2 linked regions of the Homo sapiens genome follow. The protein of the gene in region 2 interacts with the protein of the main gene of each other region in a pairwise test. Each region holds a gene or a part of one and is shown on either strand. Other genes may lie near its edges.

The links.
Region 1: the proteins of ZNF765 (region 2) and BPIFA1 interact in binary tests that used the Homo sapiens proteins (3 or more experiments, as listed by UniProt).

Annotation. Positions count from the first base shown.
Region 1 is NC_000020.11:33,234,285-33,238,206, reverse strand, and holds the start of BPIFA1 (BPI fold-containing family A member 1 precursor), read right to left. Parts: upstream 2,212-3,922; 5' UTR 2,157-2,211; intron 511-2,156; 5' UTR 496-510; coding exon 336-495; intron 153-335; coding exon 1-152.
Region 2 is NC_000019.10:53,408,451-53,412,272, reverse strand, and holds the end of ZNF765 (zinc finger protein 765), read right to left. Parts: coding exon 3,146-3,822; 3' UTR 264-3,145; downstream 1-263. UniProt on the Homo sapiens protein: May be involved in transcriptional regulation.

The sequences.
Region 1 (3,922 bases), on a different chromosome or scaffold from region 2:
GTTGTTCAGGCCAGGAATCACTGACGTCACTTTTCCAAGCAGTCCCCCAAGGAGGCCACCAGAAGTACCTCCTCCAGGCTTCAGGATGTCCAGGAGCGGAAGGTTTTCCAGAATGCCCAACAGGCCCCCAGACAGCAGGCCATTGCTGAGGGCTGGAAATGGGTGTAAGGGTCTCTGGGGGTCAGATCTGACAATTCCAGATCCTCAGGCCCCCTCCCCCATCCAGCCCTGTCCCTCCCCACTTTGCAGGGTTGGACACACACACACACACACACACACACACACACACACACACACACACACACACATGCACACATACACCCCTGAAAACTCACCATTTGTCAAGCTTCCTGCAAGACCTGTGGGACTCAAGGGCAGGGCTGGATTCACATTCAAGGGCAGGGTCTGGTCCAGGGGCACGGGCAGGCCTCCAAACTGGGCCATGGTCTGGGCTAACAGCCCGTAGAAGACAATGAGGCCCCCAGTTTGAAACATCTTTGCTCTTAGTATCTGTGGCCAGAATGACAAGTCCAACATGGCATGGGTATCAGAGAGGAATTTATCCACCACCTGCCCTGACACCTGGGGGGTGGGGTTGTTTGCTCCCCAGAACACCAGGGGGTCACTAGTAATAGCTAATACTGCTGAACAATTTCTCTTTGCCAGGCAACAGGCTGACCACTTTACACAATTTCATCTTCATCACAACCCTAAGACATGGGCACCTGTTACCTGCATTGCACAGGTGAGGACCACTGATCAGGGGCCTAAAAAGGAGACAGCCCCACTCCACCACATTCCAAAGAAGAGGGTTTTTTTCCTTCTTGCCAAGAATCCCAGCCTCACCTCACTCCATCTTGCCCACAGTTCACTTGTCTGATTTTCCAGTAGGAGAAACCAAGGCTCACAGAGGTCAAGTGAGTTTGCAGTTGGGAGTTTCAAATATACTCCCATCCCTTCTTGAAACCCACTTGTGTACTACCGAGTGTGGGTAACTTTCCCCAAGGTCACAAGTACACGGTGGACAGAGGATTAGAAGCTAGAGCCAGGTGAACCCTCGGTTAAATTAAGTAACCATCAGATTTATTCTCCAATCGGGCTTGCTTCAATGGTTTGAATCATTGCTGCTCTTCAGACAAAGCAAATGAGAAGGGTTAAACGTGCAAGTGCTGAAGAATTGAACTGTTTTAGATCATCCCTGTTCAGTCCTTTGGCCTGAGCTCAGGCCATGATGGTTGGTGGATGCCCTTGAAAGTCACACAATACAGGGGTCGCATGGCCACAGCCACCATCTCATGTAGACCTTTGTTGGGGAATTCCTGGGGCCATCAAAGTCTTCATTGCATGAGAAGAACCAGGAGACCAAAGAGGGGTAGTGACTTTCCCAAGGTCATACAATAAATTGATGGCAGAGCTGTGGTTGAAGGCAGGTCTCCCAACCCTCCCCTCACCCAACACACAAACATGCATTCTATCATTTTGACACCTTTCTCTTCTCCTTCAAGCTGCCCTGGATGGAATTCCGGTCAACCCCTGAGGTTTGGCTTGCAGACCTCTCACAGGTCTATTTGGCAGCCAGCAGAGTTGTCCAGAGCCAGCACTAGTACCTACAATTTGGAGACAACTGGTGACTTTGTGCAAAATTCCATCTATTGGCTGACTCAGCTAAAGCTCCATCCTTGTGGTGGAAGGCTGGAAATGAAAGGTCTTTGGTCCAAAGAGCCAGTTGTGCCCTTCTTAGGGAGGTAACTTTGACCACAGCCTCTGAATCTCTTTTGGGCAACAGACCCTTTATGAATCCAATGGAAGCTAAAGATCCTAGTCTCAGAAAAAATGCATCAAAATGTATAAAATTGGGTGAAGAATTTTAGGAGGTTTTTGGATCATCTGTATCCACATTGGTAACCTCAAGCTAAAACTTATGCCTTAGAGGCTTTCATTTACGGCATTAATAGTGCCCATTTCTATATCAATGTTACTGGTCTCTTAGGACAGCAGAGCAAATGGCCATCCCCACATCCCTGACATTGGCCAGGTCTGTTTCTCTTGCACAGCCCCCAGTGAGTGATCAAGATCACTCACTGCCCCACAGGGCAGGAGCCTGAGATCCCTGCCGTTAAGGGTAGCAGAGGGGCCACAGAATGGATGGCTCTTACCTGGACTTCTTAGAGGTCTCAGCAGCTGTCCTGGTCTCCTCTCTCTCCCCCACTCACTTCTGCCGAGGAGTCAGCCTCTTTTATAGTATGGGGACGAGGAAGCATGTGTTGGGTGATGGGTTTCTAGATAATTGAGAATTCTGCAATCTGACAGTGTCTTTCAGGGCTCTCCAAAGTAAATAATTGCCAATCACATTAGCAGGTGAGACAGTTAAGCTATTTGGTCAACAAGATAAACAGAGAAAAACCTGAGATGGGATGTTACTCAAGACTTTATGGTTTCCTGAGCGGAGCCAAGGTTGGGGACCCACGCTCCCAAGGTAGCTTGGAGCATTGAAAGGAGCAGCCAGACAGAGCCCAGGAAGGGACCTCAGTCTCATCTCTTGGCCCCTTTCCTCTCCTGCTCTAATTTTTTTGCTCCAGTTGGAGGATTCTTTCTCCTAAAATGTCAAAAGAGTCACACTGCATCCTACATCTGGGGTGCGTCTCCATTCCAGGGCAAGGGTCTCCTGTTTTCAGAGCCCCTATTGCACGTCAGGAGCTCTCTGTCCTCACAAGAACCCTGAGAGGGAGAGGTGACTCCTCCTCTTTTATAGAGGAGGAAACTGAGATCCAGTGGGGACAAGTGCTGAAAGACCCAGAGAGGATGCAGCAGAGTTAGAATGCAACTGACTGGAGAATGAAAACAACAAAAACAACGCCAACAGCAGACACTGGCCGAGCTCCTGCTGTATGCCTGGCCTGCCATGGTGTTCACAGGCAGCATCTCACAAAATCCTCACAACCCTGTACTCCTATTCTATAAGGGGGAAACTGAGGCTGAGTGTGAGGCAAGTTGTCCAGAGATGCAGTGCTTGCCTGGGGTGAGACATCCACATTCAGGTCCTTTCCCCGAATCACTGCACTGAGAGATGAAGGTGCCTCCCAACACTTGCTGGCCATTTTGATTTCCCCACCTGTGAACTTTACACTTTCATGCGTCCCTTTTTATTTTTTAAATTTTCACTTAATTTTTATTTTATTTTATTTTTTGAGACAGTCTTACTCTGTCGCCCAGGCTAGAGTGCAGTGGTGTGATCTCAGCTCATGACAACCTCCACCTCCCGGGTTCAAGTGATTCTCCTGCCTCAGCCTCCTGAGCAGCTGGGACTACAGGCGAGCGCCACCATGCCTGGCAAAGTTTTTGTATTTTTAGTAGAGATGGGGTTTCACCATGTTGGCCAGGCTGTCCTCGAACTCCTGACCTCAGGTGATCCACCTATCTCAGCCTCCCAAAGTGCTGGGATTACAGGCGTGAGCCACAGTGCCCCGCCGCTTCTCTTTTAGGTCCTGGAAAAGTCTTTCCAGGTTCCCAGGCCTGAGGGATCCTTTGGCATCCTGGTCTCTATCCTACCCTTTCTTCTACCTTTCCCTAAATGGAGTAATCAGGCATTTATTTATCCCCACCACTGGGGCCCTTGGAGTCTGTTCAGCAGATGAAAAAGTGAAGACACAGGAAGGCCAAGGTCCTGGACCAGTGAGCGCAGCTCTTACCCTGCAAAACCTAACACCTTATAAGCAAAAGTGGAGAGAGAAGGAATAAATGTGCTTTTATTAAGCACTGACTGCATGCCAGGTGCTCTCCATATTTGAACCTCATCTTCTTCAGGAGTGGTTGGTATTGTTGTCTCTCATACATTGGATGAGGAGGCTGAGGATCAGAAAGGGTGACTGCTTCCTGGGGACACACAGCGAGTGAGTGTTGGAGTCAATTGACCCTGCCACCC
Region 2 (3,822 bases):
AGAGGGAGAAAAAGCATTTCACAAAATTCAAAATCCAGTCATCATAGAAATCCTAAACAAAATAGATAGAAAGGAAATTTACCTAAACAATAGAAAGACCATCCATGAAATGACCAATGAGTGAATAATCAAGTAGGGAAAATGGAATGCCTTTCCTGGAGGATCTCACATGATGCAAGAGTGCTCTCACCCCTTCTATTCAATCAATACTGGCTGTCCTAGCTAGAGCAATTAAATAGCAGAAGAAATCAAACTCATCGAAATCAGAAAGAAAGAAGTAAAATTATATTTGTTTGTAGACGACATGATCTTCTGTGCAGAAAATCACAAAGAGTCAACCAAAATACTACTGGAACTAAGTAACATATTCAGTGGATTTGCACAATACAGTATCAGCACCAAAAATTAGTTGAATTTCCATACTTTTAACAACAAACAACTTTAAAAGAAAATTTTAAAACACTTCCATTGGCTGGAGAACTTAAAGTAAGAAATACTTAGAAATAAACGTAAAAAGGTCAGAGGTTTTTACCTTGAAATCTACAAACATTGATCAAAATGATTAGAAACATAGAGCTACAACCCATACTTATGGTTTGGAAAAATTAATATTGTTAAATGATTATATAACCCAATGTGATTTAGATTCAACACGGTACCCATAAAAATCCTTATCACTGGGGCTGGGCGCAGTGGCTCACGCCTGTAATCCCAGCACTTTGGGAGGCCGAGGTGGGTGGATCATCTGAGGCTGGGAGTTCAAGACCAGCCTAACCAACATGGAGAAACCCCATCTCTACTAAAAATACAAAATTAGCTGGGCGTGGTGGCTCATGCCTGTAATCCTAGCTACTCTGGAGGCTGAGGCAGGAGAATTGCTTGAACCTGGGAGGCGGAGGTTGTAGTGAGCTGGGATCGCTCCATTGCAGTCCAGCCTGGGCAACAAGAGTGAAACTCCATCTCAAAAAAAAAAAAAAAAATCCCTATCAGTTTTTGTTAAAGAAACAAAAAACAGGCTGGGAAAATGGCTCACGTCTGTTGGCCAGGCTGACCTCAAACTCCTGAACTCAAGTGATCTACCGGTGCTGGCCTCCCAAAGCGCTCAGATTACAGGTGTGAGCCACTGTGCCTGGCCCAGTCCTCTTAACATAAACACTTTAATGTCAATTAAGGCTTCAACTCAATGTTAAGTCAAACTCAAGTCAATGCTGAACTGACTCTAGTGTCAATTAATGCTTGATGGTTTGCTATACACATTGTATTTGGAACAACTATCTCCAAAATGAATTTTCTGATATCCTGCAAGGAGTGAGCTCAGACTGAAGACTTTGGCACACTGATGACATTTATAAGATTTCTGTCCAGTATGCATTCTCTGATGTCTAGTGAGGTGTGAATGTGAATTAAAGGCTTTGCCGCAATCATCACACTTGTGAGGTTTCTCTCCTGTATGAATTCTCCTATGTTTTGCATAGAATGAAGCTTGACTGAGACCTTGTCACAATCATGACATTTGTAAGGTTTCTCTCCAGTACGAGTTCGCCGATGAACTGCAAGTTATGAACAATGTCTGAAAAATTTGCCAAATTTATTAAACTAGTATGATCTCTCTTCATTATGGATTCTCCAATGATTCGCAATGGTTGTAGTGTAACTGAAGACTTTGTGACAATCATTACATAAGTAAAGTTTCCCTACACCATGGATTGCCTGATGGTAAACAAGTGTTGACTGCCCACTAAAGACCTGTCACATTCATTATACTTGTAAGCTTTCTCTCCAATGTGAATTCTAGGATGTTGTGCCAGGTGCGAATTATGCCTGAAAGCCTTGTCACAAACTCTTACATTTTTATGCTATCTCTCCAGTAGGAATTCTCCTGTGTCTTTCAAGGTTTGAGTGTGACTGAAAACTTGGTGACATTCTTCACATATGTAAGCTTTCTCTCCAGTATGAATTCTCCTGTCTTTGGAGGCTTGATTTGCGACTGTAAACTTTGTCACATGCTTCACATTTGTAACGTTTATCTCCAGTATGAATTCTATGATGATGTGCAAGCTTTGCTTTTTGATTTAAAACCTTGCCACGTTCATTACACTGCTAAGGTTTCTCTCTAGTATGAATTCTATGACTATCAAGGTTTGATTTGAATCTGAAAGCTTCATCACATTCTTCACATTTGTAAGGTTTCTAATACGACTTCACCCATGAACTGCAAAGGTATGAAGGATGTCTGAAAAATTTTCTGCATTTATTCTGCATTTATCACACTTGTAGGATCTCTCTTCATTATGGATTCTCCAATGATTTGCAATAGTTGTAGCATTACTCAAGACTTGGTGACAATCATTACATTTGTAAAATGCTGACTGCCCATGAAAGGTTTTTCTACACTCATTATCCTTGTAAGGTACCTCTCCAGTATGAAGTCTACGATGGTGCGTAAGGTATGACTTCAGACTAAAGGTCTTGCCACACTCACTACACTTTTAAGGTATCTCTCCAGTATGAAGTCTATGATGGCATGTAAGGTATGAGTTCTGACTAAAGGTCTTGCCACACTCATTACATTTGTAAGGTATCCTCCAGTATGAAGTCTACGATGGCGTGTAAGGTATGAGTTCTGACTAAAGGTCTTGCCACACTCATTACACTTGTATGGTTTCTCTCCAGTATGAATTCTCCTTTGTCTTTCAAGGTTTGATTTGAAATGGAAAACTCAAATTCTTCACATTTGTAAGGTTTCTCTCCAGTACGAAGTCTACAATGGCATGTAAGGGATGAGGTCTGGCTGAAGGTCTTGCCACACTCATTACACCTGTAAGGTTTCTCACCAGTGTGAATTCTCCTATGTCTTTCAAGGTTGGATTTGAAACAGAAAGCTTCTTCACATTCTTCACATTTGTAAGGTCTCTCCACTATGAAGTTTATGATGGTACACAAAAGATGACGTATGACTCAAGGTCTTGCCACACTCATTACACTTGTAAGATTCTCTTCAGTACGAATTTTCTGATGTATTTCAAGGTTTGATTTGAAATTGTAAGCTTTGTCAAGTTCTTCATATTTGTAAGGTTTCTCTCCACTATGAAGCCTACGATGGCATGTAAGGGTTAACTCCTGATTGAAGGTCTTACCACACTCATTACACGTGTAGTTTCTCTCCAGTATAAATTCTCCTATGTCTTTCAAGGTTTGATTTGAAACTGAAAGCTTCATCACAATCTTCACATTTGTAAGGTTTCTGTCCAGTATGAAGTCTATGATGGTATGTAAGGGATGACGTCCGGCTGAAGGTCTTGCCACACTCATTACACTTGTAAGGATTCTCTTCAGTATGAATTTTCTGATGTATTTCAAGGTTTGATTTGAAACTGTAGGCTTTGTCACATTCTTCACATTTGTAAGGTTTCTCTCCACTATGAAGTCTACAAATGTTAAGGGTTAACTGCTGATTGAAGGTCTTGCCACACTCATTACACTTGTAAGGTTTCTCTTCAGTATGAAGTCTACGATGGTATGTAAGAGATGACTTGTGACTAAAGGTCTTGCTACACTCATTACACTTGTAAGGTTTCTCTCCAGTATGAACTCTATGATGGCATGTAAAATGTGACTTCCGACTAAAGGTCTTGCCACACTCATTACACTTGTAAGGTTTCTCTCCAGTATGAAGCCTACGATGGCATGTAAGGTACGACTTCTGACTAAAGGTCTTGCCACACTCATTACACTTGTACGGTTTCTCTCCAGTATGAATTCTCCTATGTATTTGAAGCTTTGATTTGAAATGGAAAGCTTTGTCACATTCTTCACATTTGT